Regions from separate parts of the Homo sapiens genome. Here region 1 is linked to region 2. Evidence: fine-mapped QTL for protein levels in blood plasma. Region 2 holds a variant in brackets. A gene starts in the other region. All regions are shown on their forward strands.

Region 1 (5,523 bases), not on the chromosome of region 2:
AGTGTTACCTAAAAAATCAAATGATGATTTGTAGCTTTTACACTTGTCATGAAGCTTAAATAAGATAATGCATACAGACTGCCTAGCAGAGTGCTTGGAGTATAGAAAGCATTAAGAAAACGGGGTCTGCTACTGTTGTTGCTGAGGAGGAGACGGTCTTTACACTGCTTTTCTTTCTCACTTTCTGCTTCTCACTACCTGCATTGCAGGCCTGACCTATTTTTTGTACCAGGCTCCAGCAAAACTTCTGCAGAGCGAGGCTTGATGCCGAGGGTGCCACACCCTGGTGTCCTCAGTGCATGGCCAATGAGTAAATCCCGTAGAAAGGAATGAGGCCAGGGAAGAGCATGAGTGGTCTTTAATTCAAAGCAGGGAAGCTCCAAGAGGGTGACTGGGGCTGAGAGTTAGCGGTGGGTGGAGGAGGGGGCCTTGGCATCTTCTCTTTATGTCTCTGAGCTGTGCCTTCGCCACCCCTTCTGGGTCACTCAGTTCTCCTTCATGTCCTTGATATAGTCCTGGACCCACTTGTCACTGGGGTTGGTACAGACGGAATGGCCCCTTTTGGTGATGAAGCTGTGGAGCAAGAGGGAGAAGGATCACAAACCGAGGGGCCCAGTGGCCGGAAGAGACAGCCCATCTTCCCTCCCTCCTAAATTCCCCACCTGACCTATACTGCTTTTCCTTTCTTCCACAGAGGCAGCTTAGAGCCAGTCTCCTCTCTGAGACATACTCTTCGGTTCCTAGGACCCCTAGACCCATCTAGTCTCTGTGTCCCCCTGAGGAAGTGCCCTCTTGCCTTCTTCTCCCTTCTCTGTCATCTCCCCATCCATGGGGTCAGTTTCCCCATGGCTCCTGCAGGCTCCAGCCAGAAAGCGCTCAGATTGCCCCTCAGCTGCCTCTCCCCATGTAGTCACACCTGGGAGGTACGCTGGGGGTCCCCATTCCACCACCACTCCCTGCTTCCCTCCAGGAGGCCCTGCTGGCTCCCTCTCCCCCCAGTGTGATGTGTGTGTACCACCTACACAATTCCGGGCTTGGAGCACTGGCTGTTGGTCTCATAGTAATCCATAATCCGCTGACGCGGGATCTTGTAGGTAGTGTAGGTGAAGCAGCACTCTGAGGGGTGGTAAGGTCCCCCTGAGGAGAGAGCATCAGATGCTGAGGAGGGGCCCCTTGTTAAAGGCCATACCATTGGCTGCTCCTGCAAGCTGAGGGCATGGAGGAGGGAAGGAAGGAGGAGACAGCCCCTCAGAACTTGGAGGGGAGAGTAGGCTTTCCTCATCTTCTCTTCTCCTTCTCCATGGTACTCCTGGGCTCTTCTTTTTCTCCTCCCTCATCATCAATCACCCTTCCTCCTTTTCTTCAACCCCTCTTGGAAAGACTGGTGGATGACTTTCAACTCCAGGATTGAAGAGCAGCACACTCAGATCTTCTTACACCATCTCTGGGGGCCGACTGGCAGAGAAGGCTAGGGACTTGGCCAATATCATGCAGCCTTCATGCCTTATTCGGGAAAGGTGCTCCAAATAGGAGGAATATTTGGAAGAAATCCCAATAGGGATTTGGAGACATGCCATTTGGGAATGCAAACCCAGCCCCTCCTAGTGCTCCACCCTGCCCATGTCCCCATTGAACCGACAACCTGCAGAGAGAGCAGGATGCCCACAGCAAGCCCCAAGGACAAAGGCCACAGAGTCAGGGCACCCAAATCCTAACCTAACCTTGCCTGTGCTTCCTGTGTACTGTGGCCATTTTACTTTCCCCCTGTTCCCTCCTCTGTAAATGAGGCCCTTGGACTGCATCAGTGGTTTTTACACTGAGCTCCCTGGAGCTCTGGGGGCCTCAGGGACTATTGTGGAGGCCTTGCTGCATTTGAGAGTGGTGTCTTGTACCCTACTCAACCCATTTTTTCTGTTTTACATATTGGGCCTCTGTGGAAGATATTGCTTGAAGAAAAGGTTTTGTGGTCTAAAAAGTTTTAAAAATCACTGGATTGGGTGATTTTTTCATCTATTTTCTGATTGAGAAGTTTCATGGCTTTTATAGGAGAAGCAAGGTGACAGCAGCCACCCCAAGCTTGAATTATAGAGGTAGCAGGAAGGACATTGTAGGCCAAGAGCCCTGTACAAACAGGCACATGTTGTGGTTATGGAGTGGAGAAATCAGGTGTGTGCATGTTATGTGACCCTGCTTCATAGAATCATGGATGTGCATCACAATGGCCTCAGAGGTCACTGAGGGTGGCCAGATGTCTGGGTGGAAGGGTCTCATCCTGTTTTCCAGCTCCATTCCAGGCAGCATCCTCACGATCCAAAGAACGGCATAAGGGGCCCCTGTTTCCTGAGACCCAGTCAGAGCTCCTATACTCTCCCACCTTGTTCCTCTGAGCTGACAAATGACATCGGAGAGGGCAAGTCAAACTGTGCACATACCCACCAACTTTAGCTGTATTTTAACAACCTTCGGTTTCCCCCCAGTTTCTGAAAAGGAGAGTAGGTAAAATGGAAGAGTGATAAATAGTTTTGGTTATCTCTAAAGGCAGCTTATTCTAAGAAATCAGCTGAGAAAAGGGGGCCTAGGATGGACCCCACACTGTCGTGTTTCCCCCCAGCCCATACCCAAGCAATGCTGCACTCACTGGGCACAGGTGACGCTGGAAGCAGGCTGGGCCCAAACCTCAGGAGGCCAATAGAAAAATGCCCTTGAGGGGCTCAAGACACTGCTCCTAATCTCCCTGAGGAAATATACCCCAAATGGGGTGGGCCACTCTTTTGCTTAGCGGCAAAGAGAGAGAAATTGAGGGAGTAGAGAGGCAGGCTGGTCTCACTCCATGTCCTTGAGGGCAAGGGGGGACTGGTCCTGGGGGGCAATGATAAGAGATCAAGGCCATGTGAGGCCTGGAGATTCAGGATCTGTTTATTTGGAGACTAGAGGGCATTTGGGGTAGTGGAATGAAGCCTGGAGTCTCCCAAGTCAAGTCTCATTGGTCAAGGCTGGAAGATCCCAACTTAAACTCTTAAGCAGAACCTACAGTCCTAAGTCTCATCTCCATCCTGCTCACCACACCATGGGGTGAAGTGCTGTGGTGCTCAGTAGATAATTCATTTATATAATGTTGCTATACACACAATTTCAAGAAGATACCAGCCCTCCTTTCTGAGTCCCTGCTCCTGGTCTTCCCCTGAGCCCCAACCTCACTCCTGCTTATTTCCCTGCAGGCTCTAGGTTGGAAGGAAGACAAGGCATTGCACTCACGTGAGGAGGATTCAGTCTTGGTCCCTAGGGCGATGGTGATGAGGAGGAAGAAGGGAATGGCAGCCACGGAGATCTTCATGCTGTGGGAAGCTGTTGTGGGAGGAGAGCTGGCCTGGTGGGAGCTTCAGAGGCTCCTGCGGTGAGGAATTGTTGAGAAATGATCATTGAGGCCAAATATTTTTTAAAATAAGGGAGCTGAGACTTGGAAGGGAAGTAGGAAAGCAGTGATGCCTCAGCAATTTCATATCCTGCACATGTGTTGTTGGTGGCCTGAAGGAAGCAGGGAGAGCCAAGGTTTAAGGGAGGAAATGGTCTTCCATCCCCAGTGGGAAGAAGTTCAACTCTTTTGATAGAAGCCTTTCCCTAGGCATGAACATGAGCACAGGGCTGGGGGCACTGTGTCACACTTAGCAAAAGATCTCAAGGCTGGATGTGTCCTGTATCCAATTCCATCTCAGGCCTTAGAACAGGCCACGTGGGGCCTGGACATTCAGGATCTGTTCATCTAGAGACTAGAGGGTGTTTGGGGTAATGGAATGAGGCCAGGACTCCTCCAAGTCAGGTCTCATTGGTCAAGGGAAATCCTAACTTAAACTCGAAGCAGAACCTGCAGTTCTCTGTCTCATCTCCATTCTGGTCACCACACCATGGAGTGAAGAAGTGCTGTGGTGCTCAGTAGATAATTCACTTATATAATGGTTGCTATACACACAAGCCACTGTCCCAGTTGCCTTATGAATATTAGCCTATTTAATCTTTAGAACAGCAGTTGAGGAAACAGGCTCAGAATCAAAGCCTAAGCTTTTGACAGTTGGTAAATGGAACTGGGGTTCAAATTCAGGTGGTTTGGCTTCCAAGTCTGTGTTCTCACCCATTATGCCATAAAGAAACATGGGACTCCCAACGGAGCTCTGTAAAAGCTTATGGGTTTTCTATAAAGCCTTTAGTCTTAGTCCTTTCTGAAATCAGATAGTGGATCTCTTTGGGACCTTCTCCTGGTTTCTCTGACTTTTGCTGCAAAGAAGCTTGGTGGGAACCCTAGAAAATGTCTAATTCAGGGATAGCTAGTAGGTTTCATTGATTAGTGGTGGACTGGAGCTCTGTGTTGGAAATGATTCTGAGGCCATATCCAGGCACATTGGGAAGATACGCTGTGACCAACGTGCAGTTTCTGTTGCAGTGCAGCTTGCATGCTATGTATCTGCCATTTGATTTGTCTAAACTGGCCATTTACTGAATGGAAGCTGGGAATCAGAAAGGACCAGTGACTTTCTCATGTGCACACAGTGATTTGGATGCAGGACAGATCTCATCTCCGCAGGCTCTCAGCTTAGTGCCCTCACCATGCTGTTCTTGGAGGTACATCCCCCATTCTGCTTGCTGATGTGGTTAGATGGTTATTTAATCTCCTCTCCTCATCTGAATCATCAGGATGGAGAACATCTATTATTTATCTTTGCCCATTCACGCAGAACCTAGTGTATACCAGGTGCTTTATGAATATACATTTTAAAAGAAGGATGAATAAACAAATTGAGCCAGGTCTACATATGTGTATCTTATAGGAAATGGCTGAAATCTCATGGTTAGTTGTGGAGACAGTCATCAATTAAAAATTTTCTATATTTCTTATCATCAATAACAACATTATGTAAACCCTTCAAGTTAAATGATAATAATTGTTATCAGGAACAATCTCAGGAAACAAGTTGTTTATAGGAAAAGTGAGTTGGAAAGAAATAATGCTTACTTCTTGTTTTTGTGGAAACTAGCCAACCTGCCAAGTTGTTTCTAGGAGACTTACAGGAAGTTCCTGTACTTTTCCAGCAAGTATTGAGTTCCTACCTACATTAGTCTGTGTGTGCCAACTGCTATCATAAACAATCCAGCAGACTAATTAAATAAAAGTTTATTTCTTGCTCATGTTACAGTCCAGTGTGGGTCAGTAGTGGGATGATGGTGTGTGTGTTGGGATCCTCCATGTACTCATTCAGGAACCAGGCCTTTTTCTACCTTGGATGCCACCATTTTCAGCACAAGGCCTCCAAGCTTGATACAAAAAGGGAGAAGCAGAGGAGGATTGGGAGATTTTTGTGGATCAGTTCTGAAAATGGTACAAATTACTTTCACCCACATTCCATGGCCAGCATCAAGTAACCTGGCTCCAACATAATGACAAAGGGATGGAAAATATACATCATCTGTATGCTTAGGAAGAAAAAGGAATAGGTTTTGTGACCACATCACTTCTTTGACACAGTATCATAT
Region 2 (5,000 bases):
CTTCGAAGATGTATGGAATTCTTCCTATGGTGTGAATGATTCCTTCCCAGATGGAGACTATGGTGCCAACCTGGAAGCAGCTGCCCCCTGCCACTCCTGTAACCTGCTGGATGACTCTGCACTGCCCTTCTTCATCCTCACCAGTGTCCTGGGTATCCTAGCTAGCAGCACTGTCCTCTTCATGCTTTTCAGACCTCTCTTC[C/T]GCTGGCAGCTCTGCCCTGGCTGGCCTGTCCTGGCACAGCTGGCTGTGGGCAGTGCCCTCTTCAGCATTGTGGTGCCCGTCTTGGCCCCAGGGCTAGGTAGCACTCGCAGCTCTGCCCTGTGTAGCCTGGGCTACTGTGTCTGGTATGGCTCAGCCTTTGCCCAGGCTTTGCTGCTAGGGTGCCATGCCTCCCTGGGCCACAGACTGGGTGCAGGCCAGGTCCCAGGCCTCACCCTGGGGCTCACTGTGGGAATTTGGGGAGTGGCTGCCCTACTGACACTGCCTGTCACCCTGGCCAGTGGTGCTTCTGGTGGACTCTGCACCCTGATATACAGCACGGAGCTGAAGGCTTTGCAGGCCACACACACTGTAGCCTGTCTTGCCATCTTTGTCTTGTTGCCATTGGGTTTGTTTGGAGCCAAGGGGCTGAAGAAGGCATTGGGTATGGGGCCAGGCCCCTGGATGAATATCCTGTGGGCCTGGTTTATTTTCTGGTGGCCTCATGGGGTGGTTCTAGGACTGGATTTCCTGGTGAGGTCCAAGCTGTTGCTGTTGTCAACATGTCTGGCCCAGCAGGCTCTGGACCTGCTGCTGAACCTGGCAGAAGCCCTGGCAATTTTGCACTGTGTGGCTACGCCCCTGCTCCTCGCCCTATTCTGCCACCAGGCCACCCGCACCCTCTTGCCCTCTCTGCCCCTCCCTGAAGGATGGTCTTCTCATCTGGACACCCTTGGAAGCAAATCCTAGTTCTCTTCCCACCTGTCAACCTGAATTAAAGTCTACACTGCCTTTGTGAAGCGGGTGGTTTCTTATTTTGTCTGGGGAGAAGAAGGAGAATGGAGAGAGAGACATTTTTATGTCAGACTTTCTTGCCAGTGTCTGCTTCTATAGCTGGCTTGGGAAGAAGGTGAATGATGAATAAATACCCTCAGGGTACACAGATGTTCTCTTGAGGTGTGGGGTCACGGCCATCTCAAGGGAGAAGAGAAGAGGAACCAGAGCATGAGGGGAGTCATTAAACCAAAAAAAACAGAAGGGATGGCTTAGCTGGAAAAAAAGCTGTTCTGGGAAGCAAATGGAATAGGAACTCAAACTGAGAGATAAACAGTGAAGAGTGATGACAAAGCCCAGAGCAATACCACCTCCCCCTGTCCAACCTGCCCAGCCTCTGTCTTCTGTCTCCTCTCTGGCTTTGTTTAGTGATTAGGACAGTGGTGGGGAAGGTGAAAGAAGCATCCCAGGGGATGTTACTCAGTTCAGGGAACATATCAAGGTAATTTAAAAAGCCACTTCCTGGGAGTCATCTCTCCCAGGTTCCTCAGCATGACCTGAATGTGCGTGCGTGTGTGTGTGTGTGTGTGTGTACACATCTGTTTCTCGATCTGTTAGAATCTACCTTTATGTTAGATGTATGCATGTAAAAACATATGTCCACCCATGAGCTTGCATCTCTGTCAGCACCTGAACTGCGCACACCTGTGCGTGTGCACTGACTTTTCTCAGGACCCAAACCCCCACTCAATTCTGCACTCATCCCTGTTCACAGGATATAGAATCGGGATTTATGACTCACTCCTTACCCAAATGAGTTTTCTTTACCCTGGTTTTTAAGCCTAGTCTTTTCTGTGTAGGATGTGTGGAGGGAAGAAAAGATCAAGAAGTTGTGAAGGGTGGAGAAACTTGAAGGGGGAGGCCCTGATTTGATTCATCTTCTGCTTGGAATTCCCCGAATTTCCCTTTCAGAATCTCAGCTTTTGAAATAAACCTTTATTTCCCACATACATCTTTCCTTCCACCTTCCACACAATACCCCAATCCCCTGGGCACCTTTTTCCCAACCCCTGATTCTCTGGCTGCTTAATCATGACCTTTGAGATTTTTCTCAGTCTCTACCTACCCAAGTTTAGATGGCTGGAAGGACAGAAACCCCTCCTCATCAGGGGCACAGCTTTTACCACCAAGAGCAAATTCACCCTCTACCCAAGAGGCTACAAAACAGTTAGTTCCTACCTCTAACCCAACTAAAGGCTGGGGAAACTTGAGCAGATACGTTCTATCAGTTTGAACCCAATTACCATCTTACCATTTTCCAAAGATATGCTATACCTGGTTTCTTTACTAAAATGTTTCTGCTTGACTCTCTGGGCTTGGGAATAGTAGGCGAGTGCGGGAGAGGTGCAGAGATGAGTTAGAATAGCTTAGGCAGGAGGGTGCAAAAGGCTTAGGGAATTTTCCTGGGTGGGTGCCACGACAAGGCCTCTAAATCTCCCACCTCCTGTCTCTTAGCAACCACCAGGTTAGCTCCTGATTGGTTCGTCCTCAATTGAAAGGCGGGATTTAGGGACCGATTGAGACGCGGGAGACATTCTGAAACAGAAAGGAAGGGAGAGAAAATGAAGAGAAAGGAAATAATTTACAAACCTAAATTATGCTCTGGTTTCCAACCACAGTTCATGAATGTGTTCTAGTATTTTTTCCCCCGCTTTTTTTTTTCCAGGCTTCTCTCAATATCCCCCTCCCGTCCTTGACCACTCTTGCAATTCTACCAGATGTTGCTGTCCTCCCTTACAAGGTACTGATTTGGAAGCTGACCTAGTTGAGGGGGAGGAGAGGGCGTTTTTGACTCCCTGAATCTTCCAGTGTCAACCTGATGCAAGGGAGGCTTAATTTAAGACCAGTAGGCTTGTCTTATCTGCCCCCAACCCTGTGCCTCTGGATAGAAATCCCTGGTCAGTCAGTCCAGTTAGAGAGAACCCCAGACTCCTGGGTAATAGCTTGGCAGCTCTCATGGCTTTCACAAGGGAAAGGCAGCTGCAGAAGCCCGAAGCTGCTAAGAGGTTAGGGTGGGCTGGAGACAGTGCCCTACCCCCGCCCCCTGCTACATCCTCCTCATCCCCACCCCCACCGGGATTGCTCCAGGCCTTTTGGGCTGCCCTTTCCCTGCCATTACCTAGGCAGCACTTGGAGAGCTCCTCCTTAAGTCTAACCCGGACCTCAGTCATTTCTTTAAAGCTTTCTTGGGGACCTGCCACCCCATGCATTTAACCCACTGCATGCCATCAACCACTCTAAAATTGGTCTGAGTCTGGCATCTTTTCTGCAACCCTTCAGGAATACAAATCCTGTCTCCTTAAAGCCCTTAAGAATTTAATCTTAGGGTTGGCAGGGACTTTAGCTGTGTATGAGATATTGGGCATCCTAGCTAAAGAAAAAAATCCTCTCAGAAAGATGAGAGCCAGGGAAGCAAGCTCTTGGGAAAACACAGGACCCTGAGGAAGGTCAGTTTGCTTTGCTTTCTAAAGGAGAGAGATCTATTATTCAAGGGAAGTTTGAACATCACATTGACGCTCATAGTTCATTTATTCCAAGCTGAGGCCCCTCCCTTAGGATTTAGAAAACAAATACTTGGTCCTCACACCCTTTTTCCATTCCTATTTCCCTATCCCCCAACCCCATCACCACCTTCCTCCCTCAGAGGAATTCTGATTGAGAACTTCACTGGGATTTCAAACCCAATTCATCGCCAACTCTAATTGCCAGAGATTTGCATGAAAACCATCGTATGCTATCTAATTATTCTGACAACAGCAGCCCGCCGTCTGGGCACAAGGAGAATCGGAGTTTTAATTAACAATAATGCACCTTGCTGACGAATGCGACTGTTTAGGTTAATTAACAAGTCCAAGTCCTTCCAAATCATCTCTAGACATCTAGGTGATTTGGGCAGGAAGGGTGTGGGGAACACAGGGAGGGATGGGGAGTGTTTAAGCATCATTTCTGCAAAAATGCACGTTAGCTTTCTTCTTTCCTGTAACTATTTGGTGAAGGGAAGAGAAACTCTCTAAGAGACTGGCTCTGGAAAATTGGTTGGGGGATTTTGAGAACATCTTCTTTTTTTTTTTTTTTTTTTGAGACAGAGTCTCACTCTGTTGCCCAGGCTGGAGTGTAGTGGTGCAATCTTGGCTCACTGCAACCTCCGCCTCCCAGGTTCAAGTGATTCTCCTGCCTCAGCCTCCTGAGTAGCTGGGATTACAGGTGTGCACCACCACGCCAGGCTAATTTTTTGTATTTTTAGTAGAGACGGGGGGGTCTCACCAGTTTGGCCAGCCTGGTCTCGAACTCTGACTTCAGGTGATCCACCTGCCTCAGCCTCCCAAAGTGCTGGGATCACAGGCGTGAGCCACCGCGCCCGGCGGGAACATCATTTTAAGGGGATGTATCAGACATCTTTATGTTGCACTTAGATTTAGGAAATCTTTTGGATACATTTTTATAAATGAGAAGATTAAGTTCTTATAGCTCTCTAGTATCTCAAAATCATTGCCTGATTGTTTGCAAACTTGGTTTCTAGCATGAAAGTCTCAACTTCCCCATCAATGCCATTTGTCCTCAGCTTTCTCTATATGTTCCTACCACATCTGTGGTCATTTAAAGTTGCCTACTGCTTGTGAACCCGGGAGGTGGAGCTTGCAGTAAGCCGAGATCGCGCCACTGCACTCCAGCCTGAGCGACAGAGTGAGACTCCATCTCAAAAAAAAAAAAAAAAAAAGTTGCCTACTGCCTTTGGTTTCCCAGATAACGTGTCAAGTTTCACCCTTGCCCTCTTCAAAGATAACTGTATTTTTTTTTCCTGGGTAGTTCTCCGTATCATGCAAAAATACATTGTATGTAGCTCCAAACTGTACCTTTCATCTTTCTAGTCTTTCTAAGAGCATGGACCTAGTCTTTTTCCTCTAAATAGGGTATTGCTAATGTTTACGGGATAGGAGGAGGGTTATAGGCCTCTTAGAAAATCCAG

Direction of the effects. Alleles are on the strand shown, and positions count from the first base shown. The strength of an association depends on the size of the effect and on how common the allele is.
With allele C in place of T in region 2, the plasma level of the protein whose gene starts at base 3,414 in region 1 is lower (weak association).

Evidence for each region. PIP is the chance, under the fine-mapping model, that this variant and not a neighbour inherited with it causes the effect. Protein levels are from antibody-based Olink assays in UK Biobank. Linkage for the fine-mapping came from a reference panel and not from the study's own genotypes, which makes the PIPs less certain.
Region 1: CCL14 starts here. The variant in region 2 is fine-mapped to the plasma level of the CCL14 protein (UK Biobank, PIP above 0.99).

What each region holds. Positions count from the first base shown.
Region 1 is chr17:35,983,316-35,988,838 of GRCh38, forward strand. CCL14 (C-C motif chemokine ligand 14) reads right to left here and starts at 3,414. Exons shown (of 3, transcript NM_032963.4): 1 at 3,256-3,414; 2 at 1,023-1,137; 3 at 1-573. The coding sequence starts at 3,334. The coding sequence ends at 486. CCL15-CCL14 (CCL15-CCL14 readthrough (NMD candidate)) reads right to left here. Exons shown (of 7, transcript NR_027922.3): 5 at 3,256-3,389; 6 at 1,023-1,137; 7 at 341-573.
Region 2 is chr1:159,205,502-159,210,501 of GRCh38, forward strand. It overlaps ACKR1 (atypical chemokine receptor 1 (Duffy blood group)), which reads left to right. Exons shown (of 2, transcript NM_002036.4): 2 at 1-999. The coding sequence ends at 949. Among named protein-coding and RNA genes, the nearest start is that of ACKR1, 3.1 kb to the left of the region's middle. The variant C/T (reference allele first, on the strand shown) is at 203.